2 separate regions of the Homo sapiens genome follow, and region 1 is linked to region 2. The links come from fine-mapping of genetic effects on gene expression. Tissue or cell type: testis. Region 2 holds a variant in brackets; the other region holds the start of a gene. All regions are shown on one strand. Distances are from middle to middle.

Evidence for each region. PIP is the estimated chance that this variant, and not a neighbour inherited with it, causes the effect.
Region 1: it holds the start of PRICKLE1, and the variant in region 2 is fine-mapped to the expression of PRICKLE1 in testis (GTEx, PIP 0.91).

Annotation. Positions count from the first base shown.
Region 1 is chr12:42,586,141-42,594,110 of GRCh38, reverse strand. PRICKLE1 (prickle planar cell polarity protein 1) reads left to right here and starts at 4,365. Exons shown (of 8, transcript NM_153026.3): 1 at 4,365-4,646. RefSeq lists an enhancer at 3,085-3,642 and a silencer at 4,112-4,361.
Region 2 is chr12:42,475,350-42,483,319 of GRCh38, reverse strand. All of the region lies in intron 1 of PRICKLE1 (prickle planar cell polarity protein 1), which reads left to right. Among named protein-coding and RNA genes, the nearest start is that of PRICKLE1, 110 kb to the left of the region's middle. RefSeq lists enhancers at 98-217, 1,432-2,043, 4,053-4,142, 7,910-7,970 and silencers at 338-407, 2,357-2,557. The variant G/A (reference allele first, on the strand shown) is at 3,982.

The DNA.
Region 1 (7,970 bases), 110 kb before region 2:
CCAGAGAGATAGGCATAGTGCAAATATAAAAGACCTTTAGAACTAATCCAAGGAGTGTGCACTCTATCCTGAAAGCCCTGAAGAGCATAAGTAGGATTTGCAGCCCGGGAGCACGCCTGACAGCCAGGCCCTTGCAGATCATTATAGGGTCAACACTGATTCACCCTGCAAACACTGGTTGGGGCTGGGTCTGCAAGTCAAAGAAAGGAGTCCCAGATGTGGATGAACAAGAGACACAGGGAGCAGACGCCAAGCAAATCCTAGGAATCAAACAGACCTGGGAATCAAACAAAGACTGCCAACACTGTCTGATTGTTGCTTAATTCTCAAGCTTGTGGCCCACACTGTCACGAATTCTTCATCTAAATATGAAAATCCTCTTTAGTGAGCCACGACACATTCAGAGCATGACATGGTTGGGTATTGTACTAGTTTGCTGGGGCTACCATAATAAAGTACCACAAACTGGGTGGCTGAAACAACTGAAATTTATTGTCTTACAGTTGTGCAGGTGGAAAGTCTGAGATCAAGGTGTGGGCAGGGTTGGTTCCTTCTGAGAGCTGTGAGGAAGAATCTGTTCCGTGCCTCTCTCCTGGCTTCTGGTAATTTGCTGGCAATCAATGATGTTCCTTGGCTTGCAGAAGCATCACCCTGATCTCCGCCTTCACCTCTATGTGGTATTCTCCCTGTGTGCATGTCTGTCTCCAAATTCTGCTCCCCACCTCTTTTTGAGACACGGTCTCGCTGTATTGCCCAGGCTAGAGTGCAGGGACACCATAATGGCTCACCACAGCCTCGATGTCCTGGGCTCAAGTGATTGTCCTGCCTCAGCCTTCCAGTAGCTGGGAACATAGGTGCATGCCCATGCCACCACACCTGGCGATTTCTTTCTTTTTTTTCCTTTTTTTTTTTTTTGGAGAGACAAGATCTCCCTGTGTTGCCTGTTGCCCAGGCTCATCTCAAACTCCTGGGCTTAAGTGACTCTCCCACCTCAGCCTCCCAAAGTGCTGGGAGTATAGGCATGAGTCACTATGCCTGCCCAAGTTTCCCCTTTTTATAAGGATAAAAATCATATTGGATTAGGACTGAACTTAGTGACCTCATGTTAACTTGATTAACTCTGCAAAGACCTTATCTCCAAATAAGGTTGCATTCTGAGGTACTGCAGTTAAGGACTTCAACATGAAGTTTTGGAGGACACAATTCAACACACAAAAATGTTATTTTTAAAAAGAAGTTGCAGCCAGGCTCAGTGGCTCATGCCTGTAATCCTAGCACTTTGGGAGGCCAAGGCAGGTGGATCACTTGAGGTCAGGAGTTCAAGACCAGCCTGGCCAACATGGCGAAACCCCGTCTGTACTAAAAATACAAAAATTAGCTGGGTGTGATGGCATGCACCTGTAGTCCCAGCTACTCGGGCAGCTGAGGCAGGAGAATTGCATGAACCCTGGGGTCAGAGTTTGCAGTGAGCCAAGATCGTGCCATTTCACGCCAGCCTGGGCGAAGAGCAAGACTCCATCTCAAATAAATAAATAAAATAAAAAGAAGTTACTTAGCCACGTACGGTAGTGCATGCCTGTAGTCTCAGCTACTCGGGAGGCTGTGGCGGGAGGATCACTTGAGCCCAGGAGTTTGAGGCTGAAGTGAGCTGTGATCACCACTGCACTCCAGACTGGGTGACAGATCAAGGGTGTCTCAAAAAAGAAAAGTAGACATTCTCTAAGTGAATTGATTTCTTACAAAAGGTATGACATCATGTTGCTTTGTAAAGACAAAGAAAATAACACCATTAATAAAACAGACTCAGAAAAAAGAAAAAGAGACCCAGGAGCAATTCAAGAGTTCACAATGAAGAATGCTTTTTCAGATTAAATAAAAAACAGTTCTTTTCTACTTGTGGGATTTTGCATGGAGGCTGCTATAGAGAAGGGTGCTTGTGAGAAGATGCCTTATAAAATGAAATACAAACGTTCCAGTGATTTCTGCAGCATTCAATCTTCCCAACAGTTCCCTGAGCTGAATATTATTACCCTCACTTACCAATGAGAAACTAAGCCTGAGAGAGGTTAACTACATTACCCCAGGCTACATTTGGTAAGCGGTGGGGCTGAAATTTGAAATCAGACTGTTGTGACCTCAGACCATCACATGCACTGGCCGGAGTAATTTTATGAGTCCTGGTTGAAGGCCAAGTATTCACCTTTGCAATGGATCCAAAAGATGCTGCCCAGCACACAGTCCAAAGAGGCAGTAATCCTCCAGAGGGAATGACCATGTATCATCCACAGTGCTCAGGGTGTCTGCTCCACATAATAGATGCTCAACAAACAAAACCTTTGTGAAGTCACTGTACAGCAATAAGATTTATTTCACCTATGGAGGTAGTGAAATTTTCTTTGGCAGTTCTGGAGGTTAGATAGAACCTAAAAGTTGATAGCTTAATAGAAGCATTTGTAACCCCAGCAAGATAAACAGACACAACTTCAAAGGCCAATTCCAATAAAATGCTGAGGGGCAAGAAAACCTGGTTTGTTCTTTCCCAGATTCTCGTCACCTGAGGTCAGGAGTTCGAGACCAGCCTGGCCAACATGGGGAAACTGTCTCTACTAAAAATACAAAAATTACCTGGGCGCGGTGGCAGGTGCCTGTAATCCCAGCTACTCGGGAGGTTGAGGAAGGAGAATCGCTTCAACACGGGGGCGGGGCGGAGGTTGCAGTGAGCGGAGATCGCGCCACTGCACTCCAGCCTGTGTGACAAGAGCGAAACTCCGTCTCAAAAAAAAAAAAAAAAAAAAAAAAAAAAAAAAACAACGCTAGCAAGTGGAATTATTTCAAAAGCAACAGCCTTGTTTCCTGAGTGATCTGAGCTCAGGAACTCTGCCTGGGCATCTAGACAGGAGAAAGTATCTACAGCGTGGGGAGATCTGAGTCAGAATTATAGAGCACAGTGCTGAAGCCATACATTTTCCTGGATTTAGACAGTTTCCTCCTCCATTTGCCTTTATTTCCTTGCATTCTCTTTTCATCGGCTCCATTTTTGCTGAGTATTCCTTTGCTTTATTCCCAACGAAAATCGAAAAGACTTGATGTTCTGAGAAATTCTGAGACTGGCAGTTTTGATTTTTCTTAAAAGGATAAAAATTGCATCAGTCAACACCTCCCTCCACACTCCCCCCACACACATCCTCATCTTCCTGGAAGATGATACAGTATCCTAGAGCGTTGTGGAGAGGATGGAGAGGTCAAGGAAGCCCTGGCTTTGCAGAGGCACCTGTCAAGTTCGGGTTAACAGCTGCCGCCTGTGTCTGCCCTCTGCAGTCCAGGGAAATAGTACCCACACGGTGAGACTCCACCGATCCGGAACTGGAGAGGGTGGGGGGTTCTAAGGTTTAGTGTGACACAAATGTCAGGGCAGAACTTTCAAACAGGCTGAGCCCCAGTTCAACGTGGGTGAGTGCGCCTGAGAGCCCAGCTCTGGGAATTGAGCAGACTGAAAATGTGGAGAGTAGTTTGGCCAGTGAAAAATTGTCACCGTGTTCGGATCAATGCTTTGAACCCGCTTTTAAGTGCGCCACGTTCACTTGGGTCAGGCTCTGGACATTGCGGTGGGCTGAGGTTTTCGCGGGCACGATCCCCCACACTGAGTTTTCATGGAGACGACCAGGGCCGTCGAGGCGGGGAAGGGAACGGACTAGAGGCTGAACTTTGGCTTCTTGCTCTGAAAGATCACTCCTCCGGTTCCGGGGCAGAGACTCAGACCAGCCTGTGGGATTACACGAGACAGGATCGAGTCCAAACGGGTCCCCAGCTCGGCAAGGCGCGCCGGAAGGAATCTAAGTGTTTAATTAACTGCCCCCTTCACACACCCCCCGAAGGAGAAGGAACTCAAATAGGCACCCCTACCCAAATCGTTTGATCAGAGGAAATTGGGTTTGTCTCTCCCCCACCCCCCACCCCGTCCCTTCACTCTTCCTGTGTTTCAGTCCATCGGGATTGTTGGTTAAAAAAAAAAAAAAAAAAAGGCTTATAATCGGGGGCGGGGCAGAGGCTCCGAGCGAGCCGCACTTGCGACTCTGGACCGCGGTTGGTGAACTTTTTTCTCCCTGCGCATAATCCGCCTGCTGCTCTGCCCCACTGGCTGCGCGTGGAGCCGGTCCCAGGCCTGCTCGCAGCCCTGCCCCCGGGCGCGGCCCGAGCCGGGCCCGACCTCGCTTTCAGGGCCGAGCCGGGGTACGCGTGGGCGCGCGCCCAGCGGCCTCGATCCCGCGGCGGCGTCCGCGCTCCGCGTTTTCGCTCGCGCCGGGCCCCGCGGCCGAGGGCGGGGTGCGCGGCGGCGCCGCAGCGCGCGGCTCCGGAGCCCGAGCGCACTCCGCCTGCAGCCCAGCTGCCAGCGCCGTCTCCCGCGGCCGCCGCCGCCCGACAGCGCGCCCGGAACATGCCAGCCTCGCGCAGCCTGCGCTGACTTCCCCGAGACGCGCCGCGGTCGGCACGGAGACTTTCTGGGCTCTGGATGGTTCGTGCGCTGCTCACCCTCGCCCACCCCTGACGCCGCGGACCGCAGCTCCTCAGCCCCGCAGCCCCGCAGCCCAGCAGCCCCGCAGCGGCGCCGAGGACAGTGCAGCCGAGTTGCGTCTCCCTCGCGCGAGGTGAGTGGCAGCCTGGATCCCGGCGGATTCCGCAGAGGGGGCTGCGGCGCGGTGGTGGGGGGCGAGCGCCGCAGGGGTAGGGCCGGGCACCTTCGCTGGCACCGCCGGAGTCTGTGACACCCAGACTGGGTCGGTGTCGCAGAAGATCAGGGAGAAGGTCATAATCGGTTTGTTGGGCTGTGTAGACAGGGAAAGCAGATATTGGCTGCAGCATCGCCAGGGCTCCGCAGAGGCTCTCCGCATGGCTCCTGTTTGCTGCATCACAACCAACTCTTCCCTTGGTTTTCTCCGGCGTGGAAACAGGTTCTGTAGCCCGAGGGTCGAGGCGATGCGGGGCGCCGGGAGGCGAGGGTGCGTTGGCGTGTTCCCGCCGCTTAGGATCGCCTGTCACCTACTGGCGTCCGGAGGGAGGGTACCGATTCTCTCCTCTAGCGCTGGGGAAAGGGGCTGGTGGCTTTTTGGCAGAGGCGAATCAACTCCCACCACTCTCCCCAACCCCCTGCCCCGCGATGGTGTTTGCTGAATGTAGCACAGATATAGGGAAAAAATGGGAGCGTCTTCCTCTCTTGAGGTAGAAAAAGTTGAAGAAACTAGGCATGTTAATAGTTATTAGGAGCGGGACTCAGGATGCAGCAGAAAGCTGTTAAATTTTCATTACCCTCTAAGAAAAACAAACGGCATCGCCAGTGACTATTGGCAGTGCTGTGTTATTCTTGGGACTTTGGGAAAATTGTTCACAGATTGTCTTCAGGAGGCTGAAGAACGAGGTTGGGGGTTGGGAGAGAGGGAGGACGGCTGCATCACGCTTAGTTCCAGCTTGCCTAAGGAGGGTTCAGGATCACAAGCCGAACGCGTTTGGTTGCTGATTTTTAAAAGGGTATCAGCGGCAGAACTGAGACCATGAACAAGGCAAACACACCACGGGAACCAGCCTAAAGGAAAAAAAAAAAGCACCAACAACTACAACCAAAAAAACATGTAAAAATCTGCCTCTCCTGCAGAGTTAACATGCATTTGTGCTATCAAATGGATGCATGTATATGTGTCTTTTAGGATAAGTTTTATGAATGACAAATCACTGAAATGGTATCTTGTATCTGTTCATGCATACAGTGTTGTCTACTGCCTCGTCTTAATCAGTACTTTGGAAGGCTGTGCCTGCAGTTGATGTTATATAATTGATGTGGTTCACCATCAGACATTTTTTAATGTACTTTAGGAGTAGAGGGAACTTCCATCTGTCTTTTCAGACAGGCCCAAGGTGTAGACTGGTGAGGGTTGCTAATGTTTGCCGTAGTCCGGCTCCAGATGTGTGAGCTCAGCTGTTGCCTGTCACTTAGGTGACAACTGGCCCTTTCCCACTAAGCCTTTGCTGTCTCCATTATCCTCAGTGAAGTGTCAGTGTTCAGCCGCCTTCTATTATCAGGAGTGGACTCTAGCCCCTTGGGAGCCGGCAGCCTTGTTTGACCGTCCCCAACATTATGTCTGTTTTCAGACTCTAGAAAGGAAAAAAAAAACAAAAAAAAATCCCATGACAGCAAGATAGATACATTTTGAATTGAGCATCAACTTAATCCAAAGATTCTGCTTTAATCAAGACAGTTCTGTAAGGATGACGCAGTATTTGTCAAGGCTTTTCTCTGGAACAATATTTACTCCCACCAGGGGATTTTAAACTTAAACAGCAGCCATTCATCTTGCTGTCTGGTGGAGCCTGGTTCAGTTTGCCTCCAATGTGGTCCTAGCCTTGGTGGCTAGGCTTGGCCTGGGACAGGAATCTGTCATTGTAGCCCAGCTGGAGCCTGAAGAAAGCAAAATACAGCACCTGCTGGTACCAGAGGGTTTCTAAATGCCATCAACTGGCGAGTCAGGAAACACAGAAGGAGATATTTTACCAGCTCTTCCAGAAATGTTTATACAAAGGATTTAGAGGTTAACAATGCATGTGCTCTACATATTAAAACCGAAAGGTGCTACAAATAAATGGATGTTACCCACAGTTAAGGGTTTGCACACTTGCTGATGAACTTGAAAATCTCCAAGTTTAATAAGTCATGGCTAATGTAGTATGATTCATTCTTATAAATAAGCCTCAAAAGGAAGGAAGGAAGGAAAAGAGGGAGGGATGGAGAGAGGGAGGGAAAAAGGAAGGAAAAACTGGATAGTTTATAGAGATAGACATATTGATGCAACTGAATGGGCTTAGTAAATTAATTTTTCCATCTTTAATTTGGTACTAATTGGCGAGTTATCACCGAGTGAGCCTGTTGGTTCATAGGTTTTAAAAAGAAAAATGATATATTTTACTAAAGTGACAGATTCAATCAGTTCTGCCAGTAACACCAGTGAAGCTTAAAAAGCTTATTATGTTTTTATAATCAAGGTCCATGGAAGCACTATTTGTCCATGGTGTGTGGTGGTGTAATAAGTCAGCTTGAGTCCCCCAGATAAAATCTAATATTAGCTAGGGAGAAATAAAGATCTCCTATAGGGTTAATAGCTGAACTCTTAACTTTAGAGTCAGATGTAGGTAAGTCTAGTTGTTCCTAATATTCTCTCTTTTGATAATTCTGAAAAGACCAAAAAAGTTAAATTTTGCAGTTTCTTTGATTAAGGCTTTTAAAAAGTAAGCTGAATTATAAGTTTTAAAAGTTGCATCATAATTTCTCTAAAATCTCTTATAATTACTTGAAAGCAAAATACAAAGAATTAAGTATTATGAGTGATTGTCTATAATACTCATGAAATGGAACAAGAATCTTTACAAAGTATTTTCCAGTAATTAAGTAACTCTCTTAATGGCCTATACCTATATTTTGGGCTCTCTAATATCATGGGAAACAATTTTCAGTAAAGATTATCATTACTTATATTCTACTTACTGCAGTTAATTTCCTGGTTAAAATAGTTTATAAAGAGCAAATTTTTCCTTTTAAAGAAAGACAGGAAAGCTACATGTAGTGGTGCTTGGCTCTATAGCCCCAGCTACTGGGGAGGATCGCTTGAGCCCAGGAGTTCAAGTTCAGCCCAGCCAACATTGTTAGACCCCATCTCTGGGGAAAAAAAAAAAAAAAGGTAATTTTAAAAAATCAAAGTGATTCTCATCTGTGAATAGAAATGTTAAAAGTATCATTTGACTAGGATAGACTCTTCCCCCTTGGAAAAAATAGCTGTCTCTCTCATCTCCATGTTATGTAAAATAATACCAACTGTTTAACCCTTATTAGTGAGAGAATATTAAGATTGCCTAAATCTATGTATGATTATTCCACAATAAAGAGAAGGAGTTAGGAAAGTGAAAGGATTGTGTTTCTGGGTTGCTTG
Region 2 (7,970 bases):
CGCGGGAGGGCTGCAGGGTGCGCGCCGGCGAGGGGCTTCTCGTTGGAAGCTGAGGGACAGACGTGGGGACCCGTGGCTGCTCGGCCCCACCGTCCAGCCGCAGGGCGAGTGCTGCTCCGTGGAGGTGACACGGCGCCAAGAGCGGCGCGAGGCTTTCTGCTGGAGGAGGGTAACGGGGAATTCGAAGGCGACTGTTCTATGCTGGAGGACAAGGGGCACTGTTCTCTCGGGGCTTCGCGTCGGCGCCGAGGAGGGGTTCGCTCGCTGCCTCTGCGTCCTGAGCTCGGCCTCTGGCTCCTGGGGCCGGGGACGCAGAGAGGGGCTGGAGCCGGTCGACCCACGGCCCAGGGCGCCCCCTCGCGGCCTAAGCAGCGGCCGCCGCCTGGAGCGCAGAGTTTGCGGGGCCCAGGGGGCGCCGACGCCCGCTCTGAGGCGTCTCTGCTGCTGCGGCGGCGGGGATGGGGACGACCCAGGGGACCCCCTGCAGCCATCACTGGCAGCCCCATCAAGAATTGGCCGGCTGAGTTTTCCCAAAGTACGGTGACATCCTTTCCTTCTCGCTTCCTCCAGCCCCATTTTTAAAAGCTCGGCCTTTCCCGTTAGTCTGTGTCCTTATAAGCCAGGCTATGTGTGGAATTTGTTTTTACAACTCGAGTCTTGTGACTTCTCAAACACTTTCTTGAAGTGTTTTCTCTGGAAACTTGTTTCAAATGGGTGCTGTAAGTTTCACAAAGAGGAGTGTTGTTCAGGAGCCAACAGGTGACGGGGCGAAACCTGAGTCTGTGTGTACATTGGAGTCAAGTCTGGCTGCCGTTTCCTCGGGCCACTGTTGAAAATAGAAATCCAAAAAATCAATAGAAGACTGAGGAGAACACGATTTTGAGAAAATATCTGCATCCCCCATTATGGAAAATAATGGGCTCATTAGAGCACCGCCTTGTGTGGTGCCCCTCATTCCATGGCATGCATTTTGGATTTTGTCTTTACATACTCGTGTGCGGATAATCTGACCCTAGAAGCGCCGCGCTGGCGGAGGACCAGGCTTTGTCGTCATGTTTCCTCCTTTTGTTTCTTACTGTCATGGAATGTACTTGTGCATGAAATTAGAATGCTTTGAAAGAGTTCCACATTTCCTCTTGGAAAAATGGATAGTTTCTTGACCATTGGGTGATGTGTGATAGCCCACTCAGCTGTTGGGAAATGTACAAGCTGGATGGAGGTTTACCTCGAAAATGCTGGACGGAGGTTTACCTGGAAAATACAGAAAATACTAAAGGGCATATGGCCTAATGCCACTAATTGCTCGTATGGAAAACTTAGTAAAGGAATGTTTCATAAACAATATCTCCTGATAACTTCATTATGTTTTTATTTTTCAAATAAGTGAAATTGAATTGGGCTTTGTTGGCAGTGACTTTGTCTTTAGTAGACAGTAAGCACTGAATGCCCCTTGAGTGTGTGAAACCTTTAAAGAAATGACAGTTTAGTGTCTCTTTTACTGGAAAATTCACATCTCGATTGAAGTTAAGGACATCCTAAACAAGGAAATGTGTATATCCATAAGGGTGGTATATTTTGTATTGTGAAAAGAATGGATGTGTGACATGTTTCTGTACTGCTAAATTAGTCTGTAGTTAAATTTAATTCACCTGCATATGTAGTCTGGGAGAATTGGAGTAGCTTTTGAATGGAGAACCTGTGATCTGCATCTTCCATGCACTAAGGCCTTGTTAACAAGCAGTTTAACAAAGAAGCTGTTAAGCAGTTTGTAGCCCACGGATGGCACTTAGCAGCAGGGGACACCTAGGGAATGTTGGCCTAACTGACTTCACAAATCAGTATCTGTTCTGGCTTTTGGTGATCAGAGGATTTCTAACTTCCCTGGGCATGTTCACACAAGAAATACTTTTTCATAGGGATCTTACAATGCCATGGTAGTCTTCATATAGGAACTAGAGTGGGATTGCATTGGAGAAAAAAATGTAATTAGGGATATGACCTTATACTTCATTTTCAATGGCAGGCCCTGACAATTACTGTTTTCTATTTGCATGATTTTGATTTGGTGACTTGGTTCAAGAAAATTATGAATAATAGGAATCATACCAGACCTGATATACAGTTACAACCTCAATATGTATCTGATTAAACTCATTCTCCTGAAATCCCTCAAATCCTCACTCCCCTTCTGAGTTGCCCTAAGGTACTTATGTATTGGTATGTCAATCACCTAATACTCAAAACTGTCTTTGGCCCAATTTCTTCCTTTCCTATTAGTTCCTTTTACTTTCCCTCCCCAAGTCACTATGTGTAAGCTTTCTTAGGGACAGTGTACTAATTGGCCCCTCTCAGGTTCTTTATCTTTTTCCTGACCATCACTACCATATTAATCTTCTTTAAGACCCAGAAGTATCTTGTGGCAGTCTCCATTCATGTCTTTTGCAGCTTCCCATTGCCTGTAGTGATAAGCCCACAGTTTTCTGCCTGAAATGTGTAATTCTTGAAAATAGGATTCAGACACCATTGCCATCTGTTGTTGCTTCTTTGGAAGAATCTGTCTTCTAGCAAAACCGTCCACTCTTCACTGCCTCTGGACCTTCATATACTGTGCTGACTTATTAAGCTCTTTACAGAAACATAGTTATGGCTCATTTATGTATATGTCAAGGTCAATCAAGATAATAATCCTTAGCTATCCTGGAAGCAGCATACAGACCAGTAGAAAATGAAATGATCCCCAAGTGGCCAAAATAGCATAACGAAATAATAAACCTTCTCTTTAGTTTGAATAACACCTTCTCACACTGTATGCTATCTTATTTCACCAGTGGTTACTGTGCTTATAGGAGAAGTCCTTAAGCCCTTGTCCATGCCATAATTACTACATAGATTTTTTTTTGGGACAGGGTCTTGCTGTATTGCCCAGGCTGGTCTCAAACTCCTGGGCTCAAGCAATCCTCCCACTTCAGCCACCAGGTAGCTGAGAGTATAGGCATATGCCCAGCTTCTGTGTACTTTTAGACAAACTTTTTCAAAGAATGGTTGCCTAATACCGGAAGCAACAAATTTTGAAAGGTTTGGAGGTTGTTGGCTGTGGGCAAAAGAGAAAGGCACCTTAATAAGAGACAGGTAGCAGGGATCAAAACATTATGAGAGCAGGGAGAAAAAAACCTACAAAAAGTTTGCTAGTTATCATAAATGTATGGGTCAGGGGCCATTCTGTTTCTTGAATCCCGAAGCCAGTGTTTTCTACTGTGCTCAAAATGAAAACAAATGATCAGCCGAAGGCTAAATCACATATAATTTTTACACGTGCCACCACGAAAGAAAGCAAGGAGATGAATAATGGAATTTTTTTTTTTTTTAAGATGGAGTTTCGCTCTTGTTGCCCAGGCTGGAGTGCAATGGCATGATCTTGGTTCACTGCAGCCTCTGCCTCCCAGGTTCAAGCAATTCTCCTGCCTCAGCCTCCCAAGTACTGGGATTACAGACATGCGCCACCATGCCCGGCTAATTTTGTATTTTTAGTAGAGATGGGGTTTCACCATGTTGATCAGGCTGGTCTCGAACTCCTGACCTCAAGTAATCCACCCACCTTAGCCTCTATAGTGCTGGGATTACAGGCATGAGCCACTGCACCCGGTGGCTACATTTCTTTCTAAGTTCTGGCTTTTAATGGAATAAATGTCAGTTGGCTCCTTTTGGCATTCCCCAGAACCGTTCAATAACAACTTTAAATATAAGGATGAATGAATGAATGCAGTGAATGAACCTAGAAAGTAAATTTCACAAAGGAACCCCTCATTATATCACTGTGTTATATGAATAAGGCCATACTTGAATTTGGGGAACAAGCTTTACCTAGAAAAACTGTCATGCTCCATAGACCACTACACATGCTGTGTGCGAATGTGTGCACGCACACACGCTATGTGTATGGTATTGGAGGCTTTATGTGGGGACTGGTTAGAAGCTGCTACC[G/A]AAGCAGCTGGAAACGTTGGTCAATAACTTGGCAAAATTGTCTGCCGTTCAGAAGGCTAGAGCTCTCGCAAGCTCAAAAAGAAGATGAAACTCAGGTTTTGTTATTAACATATTGTTTCAATTCCATTTGTCACTGGTTAGCTTCAAGAAAGTCTGTTTAGTCCCAGTGGAAGCAGCAATGCCAATTGGTACGTTGCAATAGGAGCTTTAATTCTTTATGGTCGTGAAATTCTTTTCTGTTTTAAAACATCCTTAGACCATCTTTGGAAGGCAAATAGTGGCTATTTTTTAAAATCAGGTCTCAAGATGTTTGTTGACTTGTCAAAGCTTTGAAGACATCAGGACCAAGTTTACTGAATGCTGAGAGCATCAGATTCCATTCCCTAAGTATAGCCCTTATCCTTTGGGTCAGATGTTCTCTTGACAATGATGATTGAGAAGTCTTACATCTGTTAGCTGCTTGTCTTTGTTTTTAATGATGAGAAATAGCTATTTAACTATTTTGAAGGAAGAGGCGAGAGAAAGGACAAAGGAGGGAAATGGAACTGTTCCATTTTCTATTGCATGGAATAGCCCCATGATATTCCTTGCCTTTCTAAAAAAAAAAAAAAAGAGTATCCCAGCTCTCTCTACATGACCTTGGGCTTCTTTCTCACCTCCCTTGTGACCATACCCTTCTTTTCTGTTTGACATTTATTTCTCTACTTGACTCTGATAGTAGGCTTTTAGTTTTCAAAATAGTGTCTGCAAAGAACTCATGAACCTGCTAGAGAATTAAGTTCTAACAGCAGTTCCTTGTGCTTGACCACCCCCTCCCAATGCCATCTTTGATGGTGGTGGTAGCTGTTAAAAGGTTTTGTGCCCTCCACACACCTCCTTAATGGTCAGACTATTTGGAACCTGAACAAACCCATCTCTGAAAACTGTTTTGCTTTTCTTTCTCCTTCATTATGAGGTTTATTTACATTCAAAATTATAGAGAGACACTGGAGAAATAGGATGCCTATTGATTTATTTCCAAACTTAGCACAGGATTGGTTAATGCATAGTTGACATTCATTTATGATTAAGTTTGCTACAGCATTTTAAGACCAAGACAATAAATCTGCCTTAGAATAGTCAAGAATACTGATGTTTTGAGCTGTGGTTAGGTAAAAGAATGTAAAAAAATACACTCTCAAATGGATCCCACAGAAGTGTGTATACATATGAGAGAGAAAGAGGGAGAGGGAGGGAGGATGATGATGCAAAAGCAAATGGAGCAAAATGTAAACCATTGATGAGTCTGGGTAAGGGATGCATCAGAGTTCTTTTACTATTGCAACTTTTTGGAAGTTTAAAGTAACGTCCAAATAAAATTGTACCAAAAAAAAAAAAAAAAAAGTATAGGGCAGGGCCACTGTTAGTTCATCTAAGCATGGTTCTACAAAAGAAAAAAGAAGCATCATAAAAAAAGTTTTACTCTGTCATAACCCCAACTTTGAATAGTTCTATTTCCATTATAATGCAGCCTACTTTTAAACCTGATTCTGCCCGTTTCATGTGATCAACCTTAAGAGACAATACCTGAAAATAAAGTTATTAGAATTTTTCTATTAGGTCTGATTTACCTGTGGTCTCATATGCTTGGCTTAAAGCATGATGTTTTGGCAGACCACATTCAACCATGGTTAGGTATCCTCAGGAAGACCTTCAGCCATGACCCAGAGCAGAAGGAATGGCCAGGCTCCCTTCTTCCTTCTGTGCTACAAAAGTAAATACCATATAGTGTTTTAAATGCCTAAGGAAGGGTTATTTGTGAGGTCATATATATATATATATATATATATATATATATATATATATATATATATATACACACACACACACACACATATATACGTATATACATATATACACATATATACATATGTATATACATATATATAATATGTGTATATATATATATTTTGTTTTGTTTTGTTTTGAGACAGAGTTTTGCTCTTGTTGCCCAGGCTAGAGTGCAATGGTGTGATCTCGGCTCACCGCAACCTCTGCCTCCTGGCTTCAAGTGATTCTCCTGCCTCAGCCTCTCGAGTAGCTGGGATTACAGGTGTGCACCACCACACCTGGATAATTTTGTATTTTTAGTAGAGACGGGGTTTCTCCATGTTGGTCAGGTTGGTCTCAAACTCCCAACCTCAGGTGATCCACCCGCCTTGGCCTCCCAAAGTGCTGGGATTACATGCGTGAGCTACTGCGCCTGGCCACGTCTTTATAATTTTTAGTGTAACTTTTTACAAGCGTAAGAACTGTGTTTAGCTGCCACTGCTTTACCCGACTGATATACTTAAGAATAGACTCTCAGGATCTCTTGGCAAGTACAAGCAATCTTTAAAAATAAGAAAGAAGTCAGGTGCCATGGCTCACGCCTGTAATCCCAGCACTTTGGGAGGCCGAGGCAGGAGGATATTTTGAGTCCAGGAGTTTGAGACCAGCCTGGGCAACATAGGGAGACCCCATCTCTACAAAAAACAAAAACAAAAAACTTTGGTGTGGTGGCACATGCCCGTGGTCCCACCTACTTGGGAAGCTGAGGTAGGAGGATTGTTTGGACCTGGGAGGTAGACAGGCTGCAATAAGCCATGATTGTGCCACTGCACTCCAGCCTGGGTGACAGATAAATAGGAAAAAGAAAAATCTAAATTGAAGTTTTCGTGTTATCAGGTAAATAAGTTGCTAGAAGCCAGGTGCCGTGGCTCACGCCTGTAATCCCAGCACTTTGGGAGGCCAAAGCGGGCAGATCCCCTGAGGTCAGGAGTTTGAGACCAGTCTGACCAACATGGAGAAACCCCGTCTCTACTAAAAATACAAAATTAGCCAGGTGCAGTGGCTCACGCCTGTAATCCCAGCACTTTGAGAGGCCGAAGTGGGCAGATCACCTAAGGTCAGGAGTTCAAGACCAGCCTGACCAACATGGAGAAACCCCGTCTCTACTAAAAATATGAAATTAGCTGGGTGTGGTGGCACATGCCTGTAATCCCAGCTACTTGGGAGACTGAGGCAGGAGAATCTCTTGAACCTGGGAGGCAGAGGTTGCGGTGAGCCAAGATGGCGCCATTGCATTCCAGCCTGGGTAACAAGAGCAAAACTCAAAAAAAAAAAAGAAAAAAGAAAAAAGAAGTTGCTAGTGATGATGTAGCAACTCTTAGCACAGCCTGGTCCCAGTGGAGGCCATGCCATATAACTTTTTTTTTTTTTTTTTTTGAGACGGAGTTTTGCTCTTGTCACCCAGGCTGGAGTGCAATGGTGCGATCTTGGCTCACTGCAACTTCCGGTTCAAGCAATTCTCCTCCCTCAGCCTCCTGAGTAGCTGATATTACAGGGACATACCACCACGCCCAGCTGACTTTTATATTTTTAGTAGATTTGGGGTTTCACTAGGTTGGCCATGCTGGTCTTGAACTCCTGACCTCAGGTGGTCTGCCCCCGCCCCCCCCCAGCCTCCCAAATGCTGGGATTACAGGTGTGAGCGACTGCACCCAGCCAACATTTTTTTAATGTTTGTGTTTTGATGAGCTCTGAGAACTTGCGAGTGAATGGTTTTGTCATTTTAAGTATTCTCTGATATAAAGGAAAAAGAAAAACTTTCGTCAGTGAATAAACTCTGAACCAAGTGCTCATGAGGCCATTGAATTTTTACAATCCTTTTTGACTGTATATCCTTAAAATGCCTTCCGTGGGTAAAGTGGACTACCTTCCAGTTGTGTCATTTTGTGTGTCTGCAGCGCAGGTAGCTTGGCTGATTCACCAAAGAAAAAGGAATTGGCTCCATCAGCACTCCCCCCCTGGAGGCAGTGTGGGGTTGCAGGGGTTTAGGATCACAGCCAAGACCGGTCCTAAGACCACTTACTGACCTTGGGCAATTGACCCTGAGGGACATTGCTCTGAGGCCCAGTTTCCCCATCTGTTAAATGAGACACCACTTACCGTGGGTTGCTTGATGCAGT